2 separate regions of the Homo sapiens genome follow, and region 2 is linked to region 1. The links come from fine-mapping of genetic effects on gene expression. Tissue or cell type: whole blood. Region 1 holds a variant in brackets; the other region holds the start of a gene. All regions are shown on one strand. Distances are from middle to middle.

Region 1 (8,079 bases):
CCAGCCTGGGCAACAAGAGTGAAGCTTCATTTCAAACAAACAAACAAACAATCAAACAAGTAAACAAACAGACCCCAAACTATTATTTTACTTCTGGGGCCCAGAATTCCAAAATCAGCTTCACTGGGATAAAGTCAAGGTGTCAGCAGGGCTGGTACCTCCTGGAGCCTTGATAAGAGGATCCATTTCCTCGCCTTTTCAGCTTCTGGTCGCCCCTTTATTCCTTTGTGCGAAGCCCCTTCATCCATCTTCAAAGCACATCACTCCAGTCTCTGCTTCCATCCTCACATTGTCTCTCTCTGGCTCTTCCTGCACTCCTCTTTTTTTAAAATTAATATTGCCACATTATTTTAAATTATGTACAAAGACCTAACATGTCACTCAGGGACCATTTCACCCACTGCTCTATTTAGCCGCCAGTCTCTTCAGCAATGGTGAGGGTTTGGTGTACACATTATTTCATCACCCAGGTAATAAGCATAGCACCCGACAGGTAGTTTTTCGGTCCTCACCCTCCTCCCATCTTACCCTCAAGTAGGCCCTGCTGTTTGTTGTTCCCTTTTTTGTGTCAATGTGTAGTCAATGTTCAGCTCCCACCTATAAGTGAGAACCTGTGGTGTCTGGTTTTCTGTCCCTGCATTAGTTCACTTAGGATAGTGGCTTCCAGCTCCATCTATGTTGCTGCAAAAGACATTATCTTGTTCCTTTTTATGGCTGTGTAGTATTCCATGGTGTATATATACCACATTTTCTGTCTTTCTCCTTCCTTCCTTCCTTCCTTCATTCCTTCTCTCTCTCTCTCTTTCTTTCTTTCAGACAGAGTCTTGCTCTGTTGCCCAGGCTGGAATGCAGTGGTGTGATCTCATCTCACTGCAACTTCTGCCTCCTGGGTTCAAGTGACTTCTCCTGCCTGAGCCTCCCAAGTAGCTGGGAATACAGGTGCCCGCTACTATGCCTGGCTAATTTTTTTGTATTTTTAGTAGAGACGGGGTTTCACCATGTTGGACAGGCTTGGTCTCGAACTACCGACCTCACGTAATCCACCCACCTTGGCCTCCCAAAGTGCTGGGATTACAGGCGTGAGTCACCACGCCCAGCCCACATTTTCTTTATCCAGTCTACCACTGATGGGCATTTAGGTTGATTCCACATCTTTGCTATTGTGAACAGTGCTGCTGTGAACAAAGGTGTGCACGTGTCTTCATGGTAGAACGATTGATATTCCTTTGTGTATATACTCAATAATGAGATTGCTGGGTCGGATGGTAGTTCTATTTTAAGTTTTTTTAGAAATCACCAAACTACTTTTCACAGTGGCTCTTGGCTTAAATTTGGAAGCAGAGGTACACTCCCTTTACACCTGATTTTTAAATTTCTTTTCTCCTTGATCAGATAATATGTTGACACTATCCAAAATTCAAAAGATACAAAATGATGGAAAGTGAAATTTCTTCAACCCAGTTTCCCTTGCCAAGTTGATACTAATGTTACCAGTTTCCAGGTTATTCCATACACAAATATACAAATAGTAACTTACTATATCCACTGTATCTGTCAGGTTGGGTTGGAATTTTTTTTCTTTTTCTTTTAAGACCGTCTCACTCTGTCTTTCAGGCTGCAGTGCAGTAGGGCAATCTTGGCTCACTGCGACCTCTGCCTCCCGGGCTCAAGTGATTCTTGGGCCTCAGCCTCCTGAGTAGCTGAGATTACAGGTGTGTGCCACCACACCTGGCTATTTTTTGTATTTTTAGTAGAGACAGGGTCTTGCCATGTTGGCCAAGCTGGTCTTGAATTCCTGGTCTCATGATCTGCCCACCTCAGCCTCCCAAAGTGTTGGGATTAGAGGTGTGAGCTCCTGGCCATTGTGCTGGGTATTCTATTTGCCCTACCATCTCCACTCTCCACCATGACCTGTCTTTTAGAAGGGTGGCCTCTATAAACTGTACCACCCATGCTCCCTTCACCTCTACATTAAAAAAATTTTTGGGTTTGGCCAATGGAAGTTTGAGAGAAGAGCAATGTCAGATTATTTTGCTTGGCTGTGTGATAGCAATGGTTGTATTCCTCTGCCAGAAACCATGCCCTCCTGCTGGGGGCTCTCTTTTACCCCTATACAATCAGTCTCGGTTTCGGAAACTACTCCCTCTCACTGCACCTTTCAACCTAAGGATGATGATGGCGTCTCCTTATTGTAAGCCATAGAGTGCTTCAACGTCTTGTAGGGTTCTTTCACACTGCCCTCCACTTTGTAAAAAGTCCCTCCATTGGCCAGGCGCGGCGGCTCACACCTGTAATCCCAGCACTTTTGGAGGCCGAGGCGGGCGGATGACGAGGTCAGGAGATCGAGACCTTCCTGGCTAACATGGTGAAACCCTGTCTCTACTAAAAACACAAAAAATTAGCCGGGCGTGGTGGCGGGTGCCTGTAGTTCCAGCTACTCGGGAGGCTGAGGCAGGAGAATGGCCTGAACCCGGGAGGCGAAGCTTGCAGTGAGCTGAGATCGCGCAATTGCACTCCAGCCTGGGCGAAACAGCGAGACTCCGACTCAAAAAAAAAAGTCCCTCCATTAAGCACTCATATTTTTCTGCTGGGGTTCTGATGGACCAAGTCTATCAAATGAATGCATCATAATTTGTTTAACCAATATCTTGGTGCATATGTTGGTTTCCTATTTTTCATTATGTAAACAGTTCTTTGATGAATCTAGGTGATTTTGCACACTTTCTTGTACATCATAGGAGACATTACTAGAAGTGGAGTTAACTGAATCTGAGAGTATGTTCTTTTGTAATTTAGAGAAAAGCATTCACATTACTCTCCTCTGAAGCTGTACCAATTTATAGTTCCACAAACCGTAACTGAGAGTAAGGATTGCTCTGGGAGGCTGAGGTGGTAGTGGATACTAGCCTGGGCCCTATAGCGAGACACCATCTATACAAAAACATTAAAAAAAGTTCTACTACTAGGGTGTGGGAGAATGCACCTGTGGTCCCAGCTGCTTGGGAGGCTGAGGTGGGAGGATTGCCTGAGCCAGGGGGTTAAGGCTGCAGTGAATTATGATTGTGACACTGCATTCCAGCCTGGGTGACAGAGCAAGACACTGTCTCAAAAAGACAAAAAAACCCACCCCAAACAACCAACAAAATTGGAGGCCATGATTTCACACCCAGTGATCCTAATAGCTCAAATTTTGAATTAGAGACTGTGGTTTTAACATCTGCTAAATTCCTTATGTTGAGGAATCACTGAGTCAAAGGTTTCAGCCTCTTTCCAAGGGGGAGAGCACGTGGACAATTACATCTCATGCAGGCATTTGGTTTTATGGACTCACGTGCTTGTTACAAAACCAGACACAGCTTTAGGGCTTCTTATTACCTTCCCCCACCCGTCCTTGGTAGAAGAGTCAACAAATGACATCTAAGCTGCCAACACATATTGGAAAATGTTTGAAACTTGAGATCTGTGGTTTATTATGAAACAGGCAGTGCCCTGGAGTTTGAATTTTTTCCCAGTTGGTCTTAGTACCCTGTCTGCAGATTGAGGGGAAAGGGCAGGAAGGGGAGTAAATGTAGTTAAGAGCATAGCCTCAGCTGGGTGTGGTGGCTCACGCCTGTAATCCCAGCACACTGGGAGGCCAAGGAGGGTGGATCGCTTGAGGTCACAAGTTCAAGACCAGCTTGGTCAACATGGTGAAACCCCCATCTCTACTAAAAAATACAAAAGTTAGCCAGGTGTGGTGGTAGGTGCCTATAATCCTAGCTACTCGGGAGGTTGAGGCAGGAGAGTCACTTGAACCCGGGAGGCAGAGGTTTCAGTGAGCCGAGATTGTGCCACTGCATTCCAGCCTGGGTGACAGAGTGAGACTGTCTCAAAAAAAAAAAAAAAAAGCATAGCCTCTAGAGTCAAACAGATCTGACTACTACATCTGTGCTAGGTACTTTCAGTGGTTGAATCTTAATGATTCTGACTCTGTTTGCTCACATGTAAAATGTGGATGATCATAGAACCTTTATCACAGATTTGTGAAGACTGCATTGCACACTCCATGAAAAGTTATCCTTAGCACAGCATCAGGCACAGGGAAGCTCAACGCCTTGAAGGTGCTGTTTTTATTTCTAGGTCCCTAAGATCTTCCT[C/T]GTCCTCCTTATGGCTCCCCCCTTTATTCTCCATATTTGTTCCTTCCTTGAAAGTCAAGGGTGCAGGAAGAAGATGATATCCTGGAGGCCAAGCCCACACAATTAGGACATGTGGTGGACATTCACCTGTTCTTAGATCCACTGCTGCTCTTCCTCTGCTTGTCTATCACAAGGGGCTGACACCTGCACACTAATTCTGTCTTGAGGGAGACTGTGTAGGGGAACATGGCCATTTGAGTTCATTAGGAAAGGGTTTTGAGGTCAGGACATGGGTATCTGGTGTACATGGGAGTTTGGTGGCCTCTATTGTAGGAGGCTTTGGAAATGTGTATTGTTGGGAGGTCCTGAGGGAGGAAGTTTGGGATGAACATGGAGATTCTAGGCTGTGGAGGAAGATGTAACATGGCTATTGGAGGATTCTGGGACCTTACCTTGGTACCTTGGTACCTTGGTAATGAGGACATCTTCAGCTTTATTTTTATGTATTTACTTTTTTTTGAGATGGAGTCTCACTCTGTCACCCAGGTTCGAGTGCAGTGGCGTGATCTCAAAATACTAAAAATTAGCTGGCTGTGTTGGTGGGCACCTGTAGTCCCAGCTACTTGGGAAGCTGAGGCAGGAGAATCGCTTGAACCTGGGAGGCAGTGGTTGCAGTGAGCTGAGATCACGTGGCTGCACCTCAGCCTGGGTGACAGAGTGAGACTCTGTCTCAAAAAAAAAAAAAATGTTCATCCCTCAGCTGCTCAGCCGGCAGTCGTTCTTTTCTCAGTAGCTGTTTTCTCCTCAGCTTTGTGGAGTCTTTCCCTCAGCCTGTGCAGCTCTGTATTCAGCCAATGATTTGAGGCCACTGTAAGCAGCTCTTTCCCTTTGGAGCTCTTTTTGTAAGCAAAAGCTCAGTTTCTTACGTAAGAAAACCCAATTCCCCTTGAGGAAGAGAAAGAGCTGGAGTCCTTTAAAATTAACTGCCTGTTTTTCTGTGGCTAGGGAGCCTTATCTCTCCCTTTGCCAGGCATTGTGAAGACTCTGTTTCTCTAGCTGTGCAGCTGCAAGGTCACTAGACAGATAATCTCAAGTCGTAAAATATGCCGTTCCTTGAAAAGTAAGAAATGATGTAATGCATGTCTCTACTGAATAAGTGTCTTTGTTTCTCGCTTCTGTTGTATGCTTCCCCCTGCACAGATCTCTTCCTGCCCCAGAAATGCTTAAAAGGTAACTGGACTCTTTGTTTGGGGCTCAGTCATTTTGGATGTTGATCTGACTGGGCCGGTGCACCTAAATAATAATAAGAAATCCTCCTCAACCCCTCAGTCTCTCTGATTCCTAAATTATCTCACTGCAAAGGCAGGAGAATTGCTTGAGCCCAGGAGTCTGAGACCAACCTGGGCAACATAGTGAGACCCTGTCTCTACAAAAGATTAAAAAATTAGCCAGGCATTGTGGCGCATGCCTGTGGTCCCAGCTACTCGGGAGGCTGAGGTGGAAGGATTGCTTGAGCCCAAGAGGTCCTGGCTATGGTGAGCTATGATCACACCACTGCCTTCCAGCCTGAGTGACAGAGCAAGACCTTGTCTCAAAAAAAAAAAAAAAAAAAATTGGGCTGGGCATGATGCCCCAGGCCTGTAATCCCAGCACTTTGGGAGGCTGAGGTTGGTGGATCACCTGAGGTCAGGAGTTCAAGACCAGCCTGTCAAACGTGGTGAAACCCTGTCTCTACTGAAAAATACAAAAATTAGCCAGGTGTGGTTGTGTGCACCTGTAGTCCCAGCTACTCGGGAGGCTGAGACAGGGGCCTAGGATTAAATAAGGAGTTTTGGCAAAACTAGGCTGGAACTCCAAAACCTGCTACATAAGTACTCACGAGGGTTGCTAGTTATTAGTATTATTACTTTGTTGTTATTTGGCTCTGGTCAGATTTCAATTAACGTCACAATAGGATTTAAACATTTCTTTTATTATTTTTAAGATTTTAGGCCAGGCGCACTGGTTCCCAGCACGTTGGGAGGCCGACGGGGGTGGATCACCAGAGGTCAGGGGTTGGAGACCAGCGTGGCCAACACAGTGAAACCCCTTTTTTACTAAAAATACAAAAAAATTAGCTGGGCGTGGTGGCATATGCCTGTAACCCCAGCTATTCGGGAGGCTGAGGCCAGGAGTTTGAGACTAGCCTGGGGAAATAGTGAGACCTTGTCTCTACCAAAACAAAACAAAACAACCAACAACATTAGGCCAGGCGTGGTGGCTCACACCTGTAATCCCAGTACTTTGGGGGGCTGAGGCGGGTGGTGGATTGCCTGAGGTCAGGGGTTTGAGACCAGCCTGGGCAACATAGTGAAACTCTGTCTCTACTAAAATACAAAAATTAGCTGGGCATGGTGGTGGGCACCTGTAATCCCAGCTACTTGGGAGGCTGAGGCAGGAGAATCGCTTGAACCTGGGAGGCGGAGGTTGCAGTGATCCATGATCCGGCCATTGCGCTCCAGCCTGGGTGACGAAAGTGAAATTCCATCTCAAAAAAAAAAAAAGTTAGCTGGATGCTGGATGTGGTGGCATGTGCCTATAGTCAGCCACTCAGAAGGCTGAGGTGGGAGGATCACTTGAGCCTAGGAGTTCAAGGCTGCAGGGAGCCGTGATCATACCACTGCACTCCAGCCTGGGCAACACAGCAGACTCTGTCTCAATTAAAAAAAAAAAAAGCGCAGAAGAATATTGGTTTATGGAGAGTATTATTTTAAGTTTTAGAAATTTTCTATGCAAAACAAACAATGGAAAATAAGAAATGCATTACTCTATAATAAAATATAGCCTTTTCTCTCCCATATATATATATGAGTGGATAAAAACAGTCATAACTTCCTACACATTTAATCCTCTATACTAACTCTCATACCCACTTACCACTCCCTCAATGACAAACATACCAAAAAGATGCTAAATAAATGAAAACAATACTTTGTATTCTTAACTATGTAAAGTATTGTACTTAACAGGTATTTTCTTGGCTGACTGGTTCTCCATACCCAACAAACACAGTGATGTCAACTCTCACCACTCATATTAAACAATATAGCCATTGCTGTAAAGTACAAAAGAGAAATGCAGTACAAATTGAAAAGGAGGAAATAAAACTTTTATTCATCGCTGATATTATCAGATACATAAAATCCCAAGGAGACAAAAGCTACTACTAATGAGATTAGAAGGATCCCAGAAACAGACACAGACGTGCACACACACCTCCCCACAGACACAGATACACACTCACAACACACTCAGAAGTACATTTTATTTTATTTTGAGACAGTCTCGCTGTGTCACCCAGGCTGGAGTGCAGTGGCTCCATCTCAGCTCACTGCAACCTCCGCCTCCTGGGTTCAAGCGATTCTCCTGCCTCAGCCTCCCCAGTAGGTGGGATTACAGATGTGCACCACCATGCCCGGCTAATTTTTTGTATTTTTAGTAGAGATGGAGTTTCACCATGTTGGCCAGGCTGGTTTTGAACTCCTGACCTCAAGTGATCCACTCGCTTTGGCTTCACAAAGTGCTAGGATTACAGGTGTGAGCCACCACACCCAGCCAGAAGTATCTTTTAAACAGGATTTTTAAAAGTGGGAGTTGACCCTTTCCAAAATCTGGAGTTGGGATGGGCATTAGTGGTTTGGAGAGGAAAGAGCAGGTGTGTTGTGGCTGGGAGGCGATTCCTTTCAGCACCTTGGGTGATGTCTGAGGCCATACCCACTTTCTGTGCTATTTTTGGGATTATGATGATTAACCCACACTCCCTTTGTTCCTCCCATGTAACCTGGATTCTTGGGCATTCAACCAATATTAAACCCTTCCTCTGAAAAATTCCTGGATTGACAAGAGCACACTGGACCCATTTCCATTCCCCATCGTGATCAATAGGTATCAAAAGAAATGATAGCTTCTTAGAATAGAAATTTGC
Region 2 (8,079 bases), 34 kb before region 1:
TCAGCCTCCCAAAGTGTTGGGATTATAGGCATGAGCCACTGCGCCCGGCCTATTTACAAAATTTTTTTTTTTAAATAATGTTTTAATTTTGTAGAGATGGTGTCTATGTTGCCCAGGCTGGTCTTGAACTCCTGGGCCCAAGTGATCCTCTCTTGCCCTTGCCTCCCAAAGTGCTAGGATTATAGGTGTGAGCCACTGTGCCTGCCCAACCAATAGAATATTCTTATTATATATGATGCACTCTGGTATTTGCCGTTCTGTGCTATTCTGTTTGAATTTAAAAATTGGTCAAGACCCACCAAACTGATTTCCCCACCAAGGCAGTGACACACATTAGAATGACCTGGAGAATTTTAAAAGATACTGATGCCCAGGCCTCACCCTAGAGATTCTGAAGTGGTTTCAGGACTTTTTCTTAATTAAAAGATAAATAGAGATGAGGTCTCACTATGTTGCCCAGGCTGGTCTCAAACTCCTGGCCTCAAACGATTTCTCCCACCTTGGCCTCCCAAAGTGCTGGGATTAAAGACGTGTGCCAGGCTGGGCATGGTGGCTCACGCCTGTGATCCCAGCACTTTGGGGGGCTGAGGCAGGCGGATCACAAGGTCAGGAGATGAAGACCATCCTGGCTTGATCTGTAGATCAAGTGAAACCCCGTCTCTACTAAAAATACAAAAAAAAAAAAAAAAAAAAAATTAGCCAGGCGTGGTGGCAAGTGCCTGTAGTTCCAGCTACTCAGGAGGCTGAGGCAGGAGAATGGCGTGAACGCAGGAGGCGGAGCTTGCAGTGAGCCTAGATCGCGCCACTGCACTTCAGCCCAGGCAATAGAGCGAGGCTCCATCTCCAAAAAAAAAAAAAAAAAAAAAAGATGTGAGCCAGCCAGTTGCAGGATTTCTGGAAGCTCCCAGGTAATGCTATATACAACCAAAGTGAGAACCACTAACCTAACGTTGTCTCCCCAGCTTGGGGAACAGTGAAATGAGACTTAGAGCCAGGGTGATCCAGGAACATAGAGGGACACAGAAAGATACAAAGGCAGGTTCATTTTATTTATTTATTTATTTATTTATTTATTTATTTATTTAAATTTTTTGAGATGGAGTGTCCCTCTGTTGCCCGGGCTGGAGTGCAGTGGTGTGATCTTGGCTCACTGCAACCTCCGCCTCCTGGGTTCAAGTGATTCTCCTGCCTCAGCCTCCCAAGTAGCTGGGACTACAGGCACCTACCACCACGCCTGGCTAATTTTTGTATTTTTAGTAGAGACGGGGTTTCACCATTGGCCAGGGCGGTCTGAACTCCTGACCTTGTGATCTGCCTGTCTCGGCCTCCCAAAGTGCTGGGATTACAGGCGTGAGCCACCGTGCCTGGCCGATTTATTTATTTATTTATTTATTTATTTTGAGATGGAGTTTCGCTCTTGTTGCCCAGGTTGGAGTGCAATAGTGCAATGTCAGCTCACCGTAACTTCTGCCTCCTGGGTTTACAAGATTCTCCTGCCTCAGCCTACTGAGTAGCTGGGATTACAGGCATGTGCCACCACACCTGGCTAATTTTGTATTTTTAGTGGAGATGAGGTTTCTCCATGTTGGTCAGGCTGGTCTGGAACTCCCGACTTCAGGTGATCTGCCCGCCTCGGCCTCCCAAAGTGCTGGGATTACAGGCATGAGCCACCGCGCCCGGCCTATTTATTTTTTTGAGACAGTCTCACTCTGTTGCCTAGGCTGGAGTGCAGTGGCACAATCTTGGCTCACTGCAATCTCCACCTCTCAGGCTCAAGCGATGTTCCCACCTCAGCCCCCCAGGTAGCTGGGACTACTGGTGCATGCCACTACACCTGGCTAATGTTTGTATGTTTTTGTAGAGACGGGGTTTCGTGGTGTTGCCTAAGCTGGTCTCAAACTCCTGGGCTCAAGCATTCCTCCTGCCTTGGCTTCCCACAGTGCTGGGATTACAGGCGTGAGCCACTGCGTCCATCCAGATTCATGATATTTAGATGTTGAAATGTGGCTTTACAGACTCAGACAGCTCTCTGAGGCAAACAAAGAGGGAGATGCAGGTACCCTCAGCACAAGCCCCAAATTACCTGCAGGGGAGAGGCGGAAAATCAGACAATGTAGAAACCGGGAGAAGAAAGGTATGGACAGACCGATGCAGATAGGAGGGGAAGGAAATACCTGGAAATGAGATAGAGACCGGCTGGACAGACCCCGGGGACCCTGCAGGTCACCACACCCTTCTCTTTCAGCTCACCTGTTCTCCAGGACCAGCCCTGCTGGGGCCCAGGCCCAGGCTCTGAGAGGCCGTGTCCTAACCTGCCCTGGCCCCGGAGAAGCTACGTTGCCACCTGTCCCCCTTCCCTGGCCTGGTGGGGCCTGGCTTTGGGGCAAGACTGAGCCACGGGGGAAGGGGGAATCCCGTACCTGCTGCTGCTTCCTCTGTCTTGGCTAACGTCTGTCCCCCTGAACCCCTAACCATACCCCAAGAGCTCCCAAAGCCTGAGACCAGGGTCATTTGTCCCCAACTCCCCATCTGGCCCTGCTGTTGCTAGTACCTGTTATTTATTACCTGGAGGCCTGTCCAGCACCCACCCTACCCCCATAAAGCATTGTTTACACCTGTGTCTTGGCCTCCATTATTGTGAGATGGCAGGGAGATGGAAGAGGTCCCTGATGGAAGAATCATGTGTCATGGTGTTTGGGGGCCTTGTTTCTGTTTTTTTGTTGTTGTTGTTGAGATGGAGTTTCCTTCTTGTTGCCCAGGCTGGAGTGCAGTGGCGTGATCTTGGCTCACCACAACCTCCACCTCCCGGGTTCAAGCTATTCTCCTGCCTCAGCCTCCCGAGTAGCTGGGATTACAGGCATGTGCCACCACACTTGGCTAATTTTGTATTTTTAGTAGAGATGGAGTTTCTCCATGTTGGTCAAGGTTGGTCTCGAACTCCCAACCTCAGGTGATTCGCCCGCGCTGGCCTCCCAAAGTGCTGGAATTACAGGTGTGAGCCACTGGGCCTGGCCTTGGGGGCCTTGTTTCCTGATTGGACGTGGTGTGGGGTATACCAAGCATGATGACTCAGGTGCCTGTTGCGGAGGGAGGGAATTTGTTACTGTGTGGACAGTTTGTGACAATCTGTGTTCTAAGCTCACGTGTGTAAACACGCTGATGTCCCTGTGTTTGTGACATGTGTACATGTTTCCAGTACCTGCATATGGGATGATGTCTATAGGATATAATGTGTGCTGGTTGTGTGTGATGCTGACAGCCGTAACTGCTCTGTGGCCTTGGTCATTGTATTGGTGAGGCTGGTATTGTTTGGGACATCAAGGCCAGGGGATGGGAATTTGGACCTATAGGTGGGCCTCCGGTGTGTGCATGTCTGATGCCTGAGAGTCAGAGGCAGTGACTCACTACTGCGTGTGTGCCTGTGCATGTGTACCCCGAGGTCTGTGTGTGTTTTGGTGTGAATTTGGCTCCTTTTAAACACCCATGTGTGGCCAGGCGTGGTGGCTCATGCCTGTAATCCCAGCACTTCGGGAGGCCAAGGCAGATGGATCACTTGAGCCCAGGAGTTGGAGACTATAGCCTGGGCAACACAGAGAGACCCTATCTACAAAAATAAAAAACAGAAAAAGTTAGCCAGGTGTCGTGGTACACACCTGAAGTCCCAGCTATTCCGGAGGCTGAGGTGTGAGGATCACTTTAGTTGGGAGGTTGGGCCTGCAGTGAACTATGATCATGCCACAGCACTTCAGCCTGGGCAAAAGGGTAAGACCCCATCTCAAAAACAAAACTAAACTAGAAACACCCTTGTGTGGCCATGAACCCTGTGTGTGCCCTGAGGACTGCGGGCTTTTGTGCAATCCTCACGCATGTGTGGATACCAGTATGCATGCCCTTGTGCTCACGCGAACCGCCCTACGCCCTCAGGTGGCCTGCAGGGGACTGGTGCAGCCCCGAGGACACTCCCAGTTGCTCGTCGCCCTCCCATCTCCACGTCGGCCTTCACCGACCCGGCGGGAGCCTTGAGTCCCAGCTCTCCAGAGCAATGGTGGAGCGGGCAGGGCATTCAAAATGACCTTATCTCCTTAGTCTCCTAAAGTGTTCCCAGCTGGCCATGCAAATGTCTTCTCTGTGTAGCGTTCCGTGGATTTTTTTTTGTTTCATTTTTTAATTTTGTGTAAAGATAAGGTCTCACTCCGTTGCCCAGACTTTCCCTGGTTCTTTATTCTGATTCCCACAATCGTCCCGAGGGGGCAGGCCGGAGCGGGTCTTGAAAATACACATTTGCACATCCCTTCTAGTCCGCGTTCCCTTTTCTCAAGGGCAACCCGCACTTTTTTGCCTCCGTTATAAAAGATACTTATGTAAATTACTGACGTGCGAATTTACATACATTTCTCAACTAACTGCGTAGCCATTTCTCCGTCTCTCACCTCCGTTCCTGGACGGCGAGAAGGAGGAGGAGCTGACCATGTAAATGAAGTCACGCGCACCGCGCTGCCGAACTCGGTGCCCCGCGCTGGGCGGGGGGCGGGTAGGCCTGTCCATGTAAATCACATCATTTGCGTGCCCCGCCCCGCCGACGCCACTTGATTCCAACATGCAAGAAACGCCCCCTCCCAGACCCGGCCCCTCACACTGCGTTCCCCCTCCCGCGCAAAGGGGGCGGGGCGGAGGATGCAAATGAACCTCGTGTAGGCCACGGACCGCTGTTTCCTTTCTCCTTGGTAGGGGGGTTGTCCCGAACTTCCTCGCCCCGCTCCGCCCCGCCCCGCGCGGCTCGGGCCTGCGCAGGCGCCGTCCCCTCCGCGGGGCGCGGTCACGTGCCCACCGGGCGAGGCGGGGCGGGGCGTCGCGCGCGGTGGGGGCGGGGTATGGCGCGCTGTGCGGCGCAGGGCGGCTGGCACAAACGGCGGCGCCGGGGCCGGAGGAAAAAGCTCGGTGAGGAGGTCGCGGGGCGAGAAGGGAGCGGGAGGAGACTAAGCCGGAGCCGGGGCGCCGGCGCGAACCGGGCGGGGTGTGGGGGCGCGCGCCGGGGCCTGCCGGGGCGACCCCGGGAAGGGGGATGTGGGTGCGGCGCGGGGGAGGGGACGCGCGCCGGTTACGTTGGGTGCCGGCCGTTGTGGGGGTTGGGGTGGGGGCGGGGAGCGCGCGCCGGGCGGAGGCCGAGTGGAGGGGGAGGGGAGGGGGTCCGAGCGGCCCTTAGGCCCTGCCCCTGTCGCCTACTGCGCTCAGAAGGGGCCTCAGGGCCTGCCCCGGGTTGGGGGCGTTGGGGTGCCCTGGATGGGGGCACCTTTATCTCTCGTCCTGTCTCCGGGTGCGTGCACCCTCCTCCGTCCTTTCCTCTGTCGCCGCGGACCCTCTCCCCGAGGGCCCCTCCCGTCGGTCAGTCTCGGGACCTCCCTTCCGTCTGGGCGTGTGTCCGCCCCCGGCCGGCTTCCTCCCGTCGGGCTCGGGTCGACCCCACCGTCCCGCTCCGCCCCGGGTCCTCCCTCCCAGCTTCCCTCCGGTCTATTTTTCTGTCTCTGGGCCCCTCGTTCTCTTTGTTTTTGGACTCCCCAGTTTCCTCTGTCTTTTGACCCCCCCGCCCCCACCCTGACTCTCCCTGGAACCCCCACGTTTCTCGTTGTCTTTCTGGAACGCCGAGGCAGGTCCCTCCTATTTTCCAAACCCCCTCCTTTCCCACTCCTCCACACCACCCTTTTCTACTCCAGCCCTCCTTCTTCTGTCTTTGGTTACCGCGTCCCACAACCTGCACCACAGTCCTCTGTCTTAGGGTCATCTACCCAGCCCCTGGCCTCCAGCCTCTCCCTATCACTGCCTCTTATCTGTCAGCGGACTCCCGCACCTCCAGATTCTCAGGGTCCTCTCCCCGACTTGGCCTCAGGTTTTGGGGGGCCTCTATAGTCAAGTCTGTCCTGGTCGTCTTCCCCACTCCTGCCCATACCATCCCGGCTTTCCCCTGCCTGCCTGTCTCTAGTTTCTCTCACATCCCTTTTTTTTTTTCCTTTCTCTAGCCACCCTGAAGGGTCCCTTCCCAAGCCCTTAGGGACCGCAGAGGACTTGGGGACCAGCAAGCAACCCCCAGGGCACGAGAAGAGCTCTTGCTGTCTGCCCTGCCTCACCCTGCCCCACGCCAGGCCCGGTGGCCCCCAGCTGCATCAAGTGGAGGCGGAGGAGGAGGCGGAGGAGGGTGGCACCATGGGCCCGGGCGGTGCCCTCCATGCCCGGGGGATGAAGACACTGCTGCCATGGACAGCCCGTGCCAGCCGCAGCCCCTAAGTCAGGCTCTCCCTCAGTTACCAGGGTCTTCGTCAGAGCCCTTGGAGCCTGAGCCTGGCCGGGCCAGGATGGGAGTGGAGAGTTACCTGCCCTGTCCCCTGCTCCCCTCCTACCACTGTCCAGGAGTGCCTAGTGAGGCCTCGGCAGGGAGTGGGACCCCCAGAGCCACAGCCACCTCTACCACTGCCAGCCCTCTTCGGGACGGTTTTGGCGGGCAGGATGGTGGTGAGCTGCGGCCGCTGCAGAGTGAAGGCGCTGCAGCGCTGGTCACCAAGGGGTGCCAGCGATTGGCAGCCCAGGGCGCACGGCCTGAGGCCCCCAAACGGAAATGGGCCGAGGATGGTGGGGATGCCCCTTCACCCAGCAAACGGCCCTGGGCCAGGCAAGAGAACCAGGAGGCAGAGCGGGAGGGTGGCATGAGCTGCAGCTGCAGCAGTGGCAGTGGTGAGGCCAGTGCTGGGCTGATGGAGGAGGCGCTGCCCTCTGCGCCCGAGCGCCTGGCCCTGGACTATATCGTGCCCTGCATGCGGTACTACGGCATCTGCGTCAAGGACAGCTTCCTGGGGGCAGCACTGGGCGGTCGCGTGCTGGCCGAGGTGGAGGCCCTCAAACGGGGTGGGCGCCTGCGAGACGGGCAGCTAGTGAGCCAGAGGGCGATCCCGCCGCGCAGCATCCGTGGGGACCAGATTGCCTGGGTGGAAGGCCATGAACCAGGCTGTCGAAGCATTGGTGCCCTCATGGCCCATGTGGACGCCGTCATCCGCCACTGCGCAGGGCGGCTGGGCAGCTATGTCATCAACGGGCGCACCAAGGTAAGGCTAGGTGGGGGCCTCTTTGGAGGGGCTTTGCAGCACCCTGGTTTGCAGCATTCAGTGCTCTGAGCACAGTGGGTTTGGAGACAGGCTTCTGGGAGGTCACAGAAGGTTTAGGCAGTTCAGTGGAGTGGGTATGCTTACTTGTGGGGACTTGGGGGGGTCTTTATCCTCCCTACGGGCCTTAATGTGTGCACCTGATAAGCTAGGAGTTTGTCCTGGAGCCACAGTGGTTCTTTTTTTTTTTTTTTTTTTTTTCTTTTCTTTTTTTATTGATCATTCTTGGGTGTTTCTCGCAGAGGGGGATTTGGCAGGGTCACAGGACAATAGTGGAGGGAAGGTCAGCAGATAAACAAGTGAACAGAGGTCTCTGGTTTTCCTAGGCAGAGGACCCTGCGGCCTTCTGCGTGTTTGTGTCCCTGGGTACTTGAGATTAGGGAGTGGTGATGACTCTTAACGAGCATGCTGCCTTCAAGCATCGCCACAGTGGTTCTTGACTTTGCCAGGAACCCTCTTAAACTCATGAGAGCTGCTGACATTCACAGCGTGGACCTTGGTGGGGTTCATGGCCTCCTGGTGTCAGTCTGTGGCCCCAGACCAAGCACGGGGATGTAGATAGGCACACAGTTCACCTGGCCGTTCTCTGTTGCTGTCTGTCCCTGTCCACATCCTTCCCTGTGCTCCTGTCGTCCATCCCTGTTTGCTGGCCCATGTTTCTAGTCCATCCATCCTGTCTCCAAGGCAGGAGAAGCAGAAGGGGGAGGGTGGCTGTGATGAGTGAGCCCTGGGCTGAGGGAAGGAAAGGGGTGCTGCCCGCTGGGCCGAGTGCTTGGCCCTGGACTGCATTGTGCCCTGGGTCCCCACTGTGGCATCTGCATCGAGGACAGTCTCCTGGGGGTGGTACTGGGTGGCTGCCTGTTGGCCCAGGTGGAGCTCATCCCCATGTCTCCCACCCTTCACTGTCCCAGTCCCTGCCCTCCATTCCCCC

Evidence for each region. PIP is the estimated chance that this variant, and not a neighbour inherited with it, causes the effect.
Region 2: EGLN2 starts here. The variant in region 1 is fine-mapped to the expression of EGLN2 in whole blood (TOPMed, PIP above 0.99).

What each region holds. Positions count from the first base shown.
Region 1 is chr19:40,828,671-40,836,749 of GRCh38, forward strand. No RefSeq gene overlaps it. Among named protein-coding and RNA genes, the nearest start is that of CYP2A6, 18 kb to the right of the region's middle. The variant C/T (reference allele first, on the strand shown) is at 4,137.
Region 2 is chr19:40,794,325-40,802,403 of GRCh38, forward strand. It overlaps EGLN2 (egl-9 family hypoxia inducible factor 2), which reads left to right and starts at 4,867. Exons shown (of 6, transcript NM_080732.4): 1 at 4,867-4,938; 2 at 6,015-7,091. The coding sequence starts at 6,249. RAB4B (RAB4B, member RAS oncogene family) reads left to right here. Exons shown (of 8, transcript NM_016154.5): 8 at 2,246-2,618. MIA-RAB4B (MIA-RAB4B readthrough (NMD candidate)) reads left to right here. Exons shown (of 10, transcript NR_037775.1): 10 at 2,246-2,620. RAB4B-EGLN2 (RAB4B-EGLN2 readthrough (NMD candidate)) reads left to right here. Exons shown (of 12, transcript NR_037791.1): 8 at 6,015-7,091. RefSeq lists silencers at 4,645-5,004, 5,155-5,204 and enhancers at 6,628-7,302, 7,481-8,079.